2 separate regions of the Homo sapiens genome follow, and region 2 is linked to region 1. The links come from fine-mapping of genetic effects on gene expression. Tissue or cell type: whole blood. Region 1 holds a variant in brackets; the other region holds the start of a gene. All regions are shown on one strand. Distances are from middle to middle.

Region 1 (5,000 bases):
GTTGTACAACCTTTGGATTTTACTGTGAGTGAAATAGGAGATAGTAGAGGGTTTTGAGCAGAAAAAATAGCATGGTCTGACCTGAGGTTTTTGTTTGTTGTTTTTGTCATCGTTTGTTTTTGAGACGGAGTCTCGCTCTGTCGCCCAGGCTTGAGTGCAGTGGCAGATCTCGGCTCACGGCAACCTCCACCTGCCAGGCTCAGATGATTCTCCTGCCTCACCCTCCTGGCTAATTTTGTAACAGGCGCCCAGCCTGTTTTTTTTTTTTTTTGAGACAGAGTTGCTCTGTTGCCAGGCTGTAATGCAGTGGTGCCGTCTCTGCTCACTGCACCCTCAGCCTCCCAAGTAGCTGGGACTACAGGCGCATGCCACCACACCCGGCTAATTTTTGTACTTTTAGTAGAGACGGGGTTTTGCCACGTTGGCCAGGCTGGTCTCGAACTACTGACCTCAAGTGATCCACCCCCTCAGCCTCCCAAAGTGCTGGCATTACAGGCATGAGCCACCGTGCCTGGTCTCTCCATGACCTTTCATCCCTACTATCCACATTGCTAAAGAGCTTCCCCTGTATATCTCAGCGTGCTTTTGGGTGCAGCTTGGTTGGGTGAATTCTTGGCAGTGCAATTCTTGACTATCTGCATTTGCCAAATTTTCTCCCAAAAATGCTTAATGTTTCCTGGTAAACTAAGTTAAAATAATAGCTGGGCATGGTGGCTCATGTCTGTAATCCCAGCACTTTGGGAGGCCAAGGTGGGTGGATTGCTTGAGGTCAGGAGTTTGAGACCAGCCTGGGCAACATGGCAAGACCCTGTCCCTACAAAAATTCAAAAAATTAGCTGGGCATCATGGCACACGCCTGTAGTCCCAGCTATGTGGGAGGCTGAGGTGGGAGGATTGCTTGAGCCCCACCCACCCACCCCGGTGTGGTAGGAGGTGAGCTGAGATTGCCCAACTGCACTCCAGCCTGGGCGATAGAGTGAAACCGTGTCTCACTGTCTCAAAAAAAAAAAAAAAGTTACAATAATAAAGCCCAGTGTTTGGGGATTGTCAAATAAAGCATTGGGTTTGAATTGGATATAAACTAAGACACTGTATTCATGGTAGTTAGGAGTTATTTGGATTGGCTGGGAAGTAGCCACCTTCTCAGAGGGCCTTTATGGCTAAGGTTTCCCGGGGTCTTGCCTTTTTTATTCCGTGTGGCTTCCTTGCTCAGTCTGATTTTGGAGATAAAAGATTTCCTCCCTTTGTTTATATGGTTGATTTTACCGGTACAACAGCCTTTAGGATTGTTTTTCTGGAGTGAGTTGGGGGTGGGGACTTGGGTTTAGGGTATAGGTTCAGGGCCTTCCCTTGATGGTGGTTGGCATCTTCCTATTCTTTAATTAGTCATTTTCTGGTGAACTAAAAAGTGGAAAATTTGAGAGTGGTTGCCAAATTGTGACTGGGGATGTAGCCTGCAGGTTAAACATTGAGAAGCCCAGATTGCTGGCTTTGTTTTCAGGAATTGGAGCCTAGCAAAACAAGGTGACCACCACAGGGAAGTGTTCCTAGGGCTTCTGAGAAGTTTTGACAGCCCCTCTGGAAGTGACTTGTGAATTGTAGAGGTTAGTCTGTTTAGTCCATCTTGGTGTACTGTGTGAAAGCTAACTTCTTAGGACAATGCCATCCAATAGAACTTTCTTTGCAGATGTAAATGGTCTGTAATCTTCAGTGTTCAGTATAATGGTCACTGGCCTTGTGTGACTGTTTGACACAGGAAATAGCTAGTGAGACTGAGGAATGGAATTTTAAATTTTATTTAATTAAAATTTGCATAACCACATGCAATAGTGGCTACATAATGCATTGTGGAGCTCTAGGTGGTTGCCCCCTGTGCCCAACCTGACATTACACTCCCCTGCCTCTTGCTCCAGGAATTCGTATCCTTACTCATTCCTCAGACCAGTTGCTCCATCCCCAAGTCCGTGAAGTCTTTTCTGTTGTCTCTGACTTCTCTCACACTGGTTGGAGGGATAAATAATTGTGTTGTACAATTAAAAAAAAAATATGTGCCAGGCATGGTGGCTCTCACCCCTTTAATCCTAGCACTTTGGGAGGCCAAGGTGAGCAGATCACTTGAGGTCAATAGTTCAAGACCAGCCTGGTCAACATGGTAAAACCCAGTCTCTACTAAAAATACAAAAATTGGTTTGGTGTGGTGGCGCACGCCTGTAGTCCCAGCTGTTCAGGAGGCTGAGGCATGAAAATCACTTGAACCCAGGAGGTGTAGGTTGCAGTGAGCCGAGATCACGCCACTGCACTCCAGCCTGGGCAACAGAGCGAGACTCCGTCTCAAAAAATATATATATATTTTGAGATAAGTATATATATATATATTTTTTTTTTTTGAGACGGAGTCTCGCTCTGTTGCCCAGGCTGGAGTGCAGTGGCGTGATCTCGGCTCACTGCAAGCTCCGCCTCCCGGGTTCACGCCATTCTCCTGCCTCAGCCTCCCGAGTAGCTGGGACTATAGGTGCCTGCCACCATGCCTGGCTAATTTTTTTTTTTTTTTTTGTATTTTTAATAGAGACAGGGTTTCACCATGTTAGCCAGGATGGTCTCGATCTCCTGATGTCGTGATCCACCTGCCTCGGCCTCCCAAAGTGCTGGGATTACAGGCTTGAGCTACCGTGCCCGGCAAAAATAAATATATTTTTTAAATAAAATAAATAAATTGTAAAATGTACTGTCTTTCTTGTTTTCTGGTCATTTCGGATGCTATTTCCCCATGGCTGGATTGAGA[T/G]CTTGGAGCTGGCCAGTCTTTGGGTGTTCCTTTTGTCCTTTAGGTCACATAGGTTGTGCCCATTAAATACTTATTGCCGACTAATTCACTGGTCTGCCTTTCTAACTGATTTCTCCCCTGCCTCCCAGGTGCTTTGAAGAAGAGTCTCACAGCCAAGCAGGTCCAGGCGGATTTCATAACTCTGGGTAGGTCATTGGCCAGGGTTGCTCAGGGTGACTGGCTTCTGAGGCTTTTTATTATGTTAATATCTCCTTCTGTTCTCTTATAGGTCTTAGTGAGGAGAAAGCCACTTACTTTTCTGAAAAGGTATAATTCCTCTTAATCAAGGTTAATGGCTGATTAAGATCCCTTGCTTTTCTTTCTTTTTTTTTTTTTTGAGATGGAGTCGCATTCTGTCCAGGCTGGAGTGCAGTGGCAGTGTGATCTCGGCTCACCACAACCTCTGCCTCTCGGGTTCAAGTGATTCTTCTGCCTCAGCCTCCCCAGTAGCTGGGACTACAGGCACATGCCACCATGCCCAGCTAATTTTTTGTATTTTTAGTAGAGACGGGGTTTCGCTGTGTTAGCCAGGCTGGTCTCGAACTCCTGACATTGTGATCCACCCACCTTGGCCTCCCAAAGTGCTGGGATTACAGGCATGAGCTACTGTGCTCGACCTCTTTCTTTCTTTCTTTCTTTTTTTTTTTTTTTGAGACAGAGTTTCGCTCTCGTTGCCCAGGCTAGAGTGCAATGGCACAATCTCGGCTCACTGCAACCTCCACCTCCTTGGTTCAAGCAATTCTCCTGCCCCAGCCTTCCAAGTAGCTGGGATTACAGGCATGTGCCACCATGCCTGGCTAATTTTGCATTTTTAGTAGAGACGGGGTTTCACCATGTTGGTCAGGCTGGTCTTGAACTCCCGACCTCAGGTGATCCACCTGCCTCAGCCTCTGAAAGTGCTGGGATTACAGTCGTGAACCACCACCGCCAGCCCCTTGCTTTTATATCATGAAGAGAGAAAACAATGGGAAATGCCAAGTAAGGCCAAACCACCTATCAGTATCATCATTTCCCCAGCCTAAGGTTTTCATCTGGCTTCAAGCGCATGTCATACACACAGCTTTAACCAGCACTATTCAGTGTATCTCTAATCATTTCTCCTGATTTGACCCAGTCAAAAATCTGCCCATTTTCATGGATCAGGAGAGGACTTACTTGTAAAAATATACCTCCTACTGGCCAGGCCCGGTGGCTCACGCCTGTAATCCCAACACTTTGGGAGGCCAAGGCGGGCGGATCACGAGGTCAGGAGATCGAGATCATCCTGCCTAACATGGTGAAACCCCATCTCTACTAAAAATATAAAAAATTAGCTGGGCATGGTGGTGGGCGCCTGTGGTCCCAGCTACTTGGGAGGCTGAGGCAGGAGAGTGGCGTGAACCCAGGAGGTGGAGCTTGCAGCGAGCCAAGATCATGCCACTGCACTCTAGCCTGGGCAACAGAGCGAGACTCCATCTCAAAGAAAAAAAAAAATATATATATATATATATACACACACACATATATATATACATATATATGTATGTATATATATACACATATATATGCCTCCTTTCTCCAATTCACTGCTCTCAGATGTCACTGTGACAAAAATAGAGAAAAATAACAAGTGACTGATTGAGAACTTACCCTGAAGACCCCATCTTGCAATTGTCTAGTAGAAGCCATGTGGGGGCCAGTATGATGGCAGCACTGTTTTTTTTCCAAGATGGATTAAATCTTGGAATGAAAAATACAACATTAATGTTGTGGTCTGCCACTCTGTGCCCTCCTCCATCCCTAGGTATGTGCATATAGACTGAGCCCTTCGTTCTGCACCCTCCCCACTATCTTCTGCACCCTCCCCACTATCTGTGTCAATGCTAAATATTGCAATGTTTAGGGCAGGATGGAGAGGGGGAGATTTTCCTATTGTAATTGACTTTGTCTTTTGCTTTTGTTCCAGTGGAAGCAGAATGCTCCCACCCTTGCTCGATGGGCCATAGGTCAGACTCTGATGATTAACCAGCTCATAGATATGGAGTGGAAATTTGGAGGTAACTAGTTACAACCAGTCCTGGGTTATTTGGGTGGTACAGGGTTGGGGTGCAGAGGCTGTGACACAGCCACTATGGGGAAGGCATGACCTAGTCCCTAGCACTGTTGGGGCAGCAGCTGCTGTTTTGTATTCTGTCCACAT
Region 2 (5,191 bases), 33 kb after region 1:
TGCATGATCCAGCCTCTGTTTCTCCTCTTGCCTCGTGTCTGGCCAGCCGCTCCATGCCTGCACTCCCTCTGCTGCTCCGGCCTCCAGTGGCCTCCCAGGCTAACACCTCCTCATTTGTCACATCTCAGCTCAAGCATCATCTCTAGGAGGCCTTCCCTGGCCACCTGGCTCTGCATCCTCTCACACCCCATCATGCCTTATGACACTTGACATCACGTGCAACCGTGTATTTATCTGTTGCTCTTTTTAGTGGCTTTCTCTTCTTGGCCCAAAGCCTGGCACTGAATAAATATTTGTTGAATGAATGAATAAACTAATGAATGAACAAATGAGCAGGTGTGCTGTGGGACTCAGATGACCCCACAGCTGGGACTCAGTGCCCTGGGAGTGGAGGGACACAATGTGTTCCTAAGCCCATGGGCCAGAGTCAGGGAATCCCACATAGAAACTGGCTTCCCCTGGGCTTCCAGAGGCTGCCAGGGAGCATCACTGCCTTAGGCCTCCCGCCCGGAACAAGAACAGGCCTTCCTGGAGCCACTATTGTGGTCAGCATTGTTGTGGTCCTTGCTGCCCTCGCAGCTGTGCTCCCTGGAATTCCCAGGTGGCTGTGTGTGTGTGTGTGTGTGTGTGTGTGTGTGTGTGTTAGTGGGGTGGGCGTGGGGGAAACCTGGAGCCCTGACCCTGAGGCCACCTGCCTCAGTGGGTTGGACAGGGAGGCTTCTTGAAGATTGACCCCCAACCTGAGTCTCCCCAGCGGAAGGGGAATTCGGCTGGTGGGGAAGGTGGGGGAATGGGCGTGGCGTATTCTAGGCTTAGGGATCCCAGGGCTGCGGGAGGACAGCCAAAGCTGGAGCGCCAGTCGTGCAGGCCAGAGCTGATGGGGCTTTGCCTACCATGCCAGGTGCTGCTTCTGGAGGGTGGGGCAGGGGGAAGGATTTGAAATGAGGTAGCAACAGCACAATCAGAATTGTGTTGTTCAAAGGCCTTCCTGTCACGGGGAGAGGATAGGCCACCACAGGTTCTTTCCTATCTCCCTCTTTCCCCTCCAGACCTTACCCCTTCTAAAATGGAGGCATTTTGTTTGTTTTCGCTCAGAACCCAGTTCCTCATGAACTGTCATTGTAAATAGACCGGAGGCCAGAACAAAGGAAGATTTTTTAAAATTATTTTTTCCTCCTTTAAAGACTAGCTTAATGAGAACTGCTGACATGGGGTAAAGTACAGCACGCCCAAGCTGAGAGAGGTGTGGGGGTACCCTAGACTGGGAAACTGAGGCCCAGGGAGAAGCACTGCTGGGCAAGGAGCATCCCTCTACATCCCAGGTGGGGTGGGCGCTCCACACACCAGTGTGATGGGAAAAGTGGAGGTGATGAGTGTCCTCACCTGGGCACAGCCTGGCCCTCATGAGATGGAACGTGCAGGGAGCCTTTTGGGGGAGGGTTCAGGAGGAGAACTGGGTGGTTTGCCCAGGAACTCAGAAGGAGTATTCCCTAGGCGGGTGGGTAGCGTGTGGAAGGACACCTGAGGCAGACAGAAGACACAGAGACCCAAGGGAGAAGGAAGAACGGCTGGGTTTAGAGACGTGGACGTAAGTGAAAGGGCAGAGCCAAGGATGCAGCAGGACAGGAGGGAGGGGGTTAATAACACACTTGAAGCCCACGGTCCAGGTTTGATTTCATTTAACTTAGTTTACTCTGGACCCCTGAGTCTCTCTCAAATTTGAATGGCCTTTTTTTCCTTTTGAAGGGGGATTCTTTAGGAGGAAGGGCAGAGAGGGCACCAAGCAAGTAGATACTGTCTCTAATAAAAGTTTTGGTCATGGCCAGGCGCAGTGGCTCACTCCTGTAATCCCAGAACTGGGAGGCCCGAGGCAGGAGGATTGCTTGAGCCCAGGAGTTCAAGACCAGCCTAGGCAAAATGGCAAGATCCCTATCTCTACAAAAAAAAAAATAATAATACAAAAATTAGCTAGGCATGGTGATGTGCACCTAGTCCCAGCTACCTAGGAAGCTGAGGTGGGAGGATTGCTTGAGTCTGGGAGGTCGACGCTGCAGTGAGCTGTGATTGCACCACTGCACTCCAGCCGTGGTGACAGAGTGAGACTCTGTCTAAAAAAAAAAAAAGGAAGTTTCGAGGGTGAGATGAAGTAAAAGACTGGAATGTTCTTGAGACATTGGGCTAGAGATTGTCATTTGTTTTTGCTACTTAAATCCAGGTGCTCTGGGCTAACCTGATTGGGCCCCTGATGCAAAAGCGCCTCCTGGTGGGTGGTTCTGAAAACACTGAATACTTTCCTCCCCCTGCCACCCAGTAACAATATTAATAATACAAATACAGCATTTTTTTTTCCCTGCAGAACAAAATTCCTAGAAGCTGAAGGGCTGAGTTGCTGAACATGAGCATTTTACTTTTAGGCAGATTACATCAAAGTCTCTTTCCAAAAAGTTGGCACCAATTGGCACCCCATTTTTGGTGCATTTAAATATTAAACACCAAGATGAGACTGGATGGATCCCTCTCCTGAAATGTCCTGTCCATAAATGAAAGAGCTGGGGCCAAGCTCACGGTGGCTCACGCCTGTAATCCCAGCACTTTGGGAGGCCAGGGTGGGAGGATTGCTTGAGCTCAGGAGTTCAAGACTAGCCTGGGAAATATAGGGAGACCCCTGTCTCTTAAACAAACTTAAAAAAAATGGCTGGATTAAACGACAACAACAGTTTCAGGGACCCAGTCTTTTCTGAACAGTGTCTCCCCCGCTCAGCTCTCACAGATCATTGAGGTGGGCGGGGTTAGACCCATTGACAGTTGGACCTGCAGGGCCAGGTCACATAGCCAGTGGGTCTGAGCTGACTTTTCTTCCCAAGCCTGTGTGATCCCCAAAACCCTTGGCTGCCCCCACTCTGCCCCCCGCCTCCCAGCCCTTCCAGCTGCAGCCTTTTCACTCATTCCACCACCACTCAGCTCTGAGTGGCTACGCTGGCGGGCTCTCTGCTTTGCGTCGGAGACATCACAGTGAGCAAAGGCAGATATGTTTTATGTGCCCTTGAAGAATCTCCCAGACAAACGTGTCATTGCAGTCGGAGCCAAATGGCCGGGGCAGGTGGCACAGATGAATGCCGGGCAGAGGAGCCTGCAGGTGGGTGGAATGCAGCCTGTCTGTGCTGAAAGTGTGGGGTGACCCTGGGGTTTTAAGCAGGGGATGGTGACCAAAAAAGCCAGCAGAAAGACCAGTGTGTGGTTTTGAAGCTGCTGCCCTAGACTCCCTGTGCCTCATGTGTCCCTTGGAGCTCCACCTGGGTCTCTGTGCCCACGGGGCTGCGGTGAGGCTCCCCGAATGTGGGGACCGTGTGGCCGTTGAGCCCATCTCCGGCAGCTATGGCTGAGGCGCCAGCCACTTCCGCCCTGTGCTCTCTCTGTGGTTGGCTACGGGGGCTGAGACACCTCCGGCCAGTCTTGAGGGGAGCAGGAGGAGGCTGCTGGACTGTCCCCCATGGCAGCCACAGGGCCTCTTCACTCCCTCCTGCCTCTGTGGCTCCAGGGGCCCAGCTCAGCCTCTTCCTGCCGTTTGTACCAGCCCTGGGGCTCCTCAGGAGGGCGGGCTTGTCGCTTGTTCCCCCAACCCTGCAACCCCTCCACTTCCTCTCCTCACCCGCCCCAGGGTGTGAGGTGGGACACAGAGAGATGCCCAGCCCTTACTACCAAGGAGTCTTGGGTCTTGAGGGGGCTTCTTTTATGGCCACTCATTTCAGCCCCTAGATCCTGCCAGTCCCATATTCTTCACTCCCTGAGGCCTTCTGGCTCTCAAAGCCCGAGTCTAGTGCCTTCCTACCAGCCATCTTCACCAGGCCCCTCTCCTATGCTGGGTCTGTTTAGATGCAGGGGCACAGGGAGTAGGAAAAGGTCTCTGCTGCCGGAGCCCACAGCCCTGTGGGAAGACAGCAGGGCCAGGTGGCAGTCAGGGAGAGAAGCACTTTTCTGGAACTGTGTGAAATGCTGTGAGCTTGGGGGAGGCAGGGGAGGGAGTGGGGAGGGTAGAGGAGGAAGAGTCCCAGAACAAAAAGGCCTGGTGTGGTGAGAAATTCAGGAGGGAATAAAAGGGAACAAGAGCAAGAAATAGAGACAGGCACACTGTGGTTCTTGGTTTTTCCCACAAAACTAAAGCTATTTAAATTGAAGAAGTATTTTTTTTTTTTTGGAGATATTGTCTTGCTCTGTCACCCAGACTGAAGTGTAATGATGCAATCATAGCTCATTGTAACCTTGACCTTCTAGGCTCAAGCAGTCCTCCTGCCTCAGCCTCTTGAGTAGCTAGGACTACAGGCATGCGCCACCACACCCAGCTAATACATATGTATGTATGTATGTATGTATAATATATATGTAATATATTTTATGTGTGTGTATTTATTTTATTTTATTTTATTTTTTTGAGACAGAGTCTTGCATTGTCACCTGGGCTGGTGTGCAGTGGTGGGATCTCGGCTCACTGCAACCTCCATCTCCTGGGTTCAAGCGATTCTCCTGCCTCAGCCTCCCAAGTAGCTAGGATTACAGCTAGCTACTGTAATAGCTACTGGGCGCCCACCACCATGCCCAGCTAATTTTTTGTATTATTAGTAGAGATGGGGTTTCACTGTGTTGGTCAGGCTGGTCTCGAACTCCTGACCTTGTGATCCGCCTGCCTTGGCCTCCCGGAGTGCTGGGATTACAGGCGTGAGCCACTGCCCCGGCTCCTCTTAAATTTTTAAGTGCACGCTACAGTATTGTTAACTATAACCACAATGTTGTGCAGAAGACCTCCGGACATTTTTATCTGTGTGACTGAAACTCTATACCCATTGAACAGCAACTCTCTGTTCCCCACTCCCCCTCAGCCCCTGGCAACCCAACCCCCATTCTACTATTTTTTTTTTTTTTTTTTTTTTTTGGAGACAGAGTTTCACTCTTGTTGCCCAGGCTGGAGTGCAATGGCACGATCTCGGCTCACCTTAACCTCCAACTCCTGGGTTCAAGCAATTCTCCTGCCTCAGCCTCCCGAGTAGCTGGGATTATAGGTGTGCGCCACCACGCCCGGCTAATTTTGTATTTTTAGTAGAGACAGGGTTTCTCCATGTTGGTCGGGCTGGTCTCAAACTGACCTGAGGTGATTTGCCCACCTCGGCCTCCCAAAGTGCTGGGATTATAGGCGTGA

What was found. PIP is the estimated chance that this variant, and not a neighbour inherited with it, causes the effect.
Region 2: C20orf203 starts here. The variant in region 1 is fine-mapped to the expression of C20orf203 in whole blood (TOPMed, PIP above 0.99).

The regions. Positions count from the first base shown.
Region 1 is chr20:32,704,671-32,709,670 of GRCh38, reverse strand. COMMD7 (COMM domain containing 7) reads left to right here. Exons shown (of 9, transcript NM_053041.3): 4 at 2,911-2,967; 5 at 3,051-3,088; 6 at 4,767-4,857. Among named protein-coding and RNA genes, the nearest start is that of C20orf203, 33 kb to the right of the region's middle. RefSeq lists enhancers at 303-809, 3,419-4,166. The variant T/G (reference allele first, on the strand shown) is at 2,783.
Region 2 is chr20:32,671,577-32,676,767 of GRCh38, reverse strand. It overlaps C20orf203 (chromosome 20 open reading frame 203), which reads left to right and starts at 2,827. Exons shown (of 6, transcript NM_182584.4): 1 at 2,827-3,136. RefSeq lists enhancers at 506-1,208, 2,060-2,129, 4,080-4,579.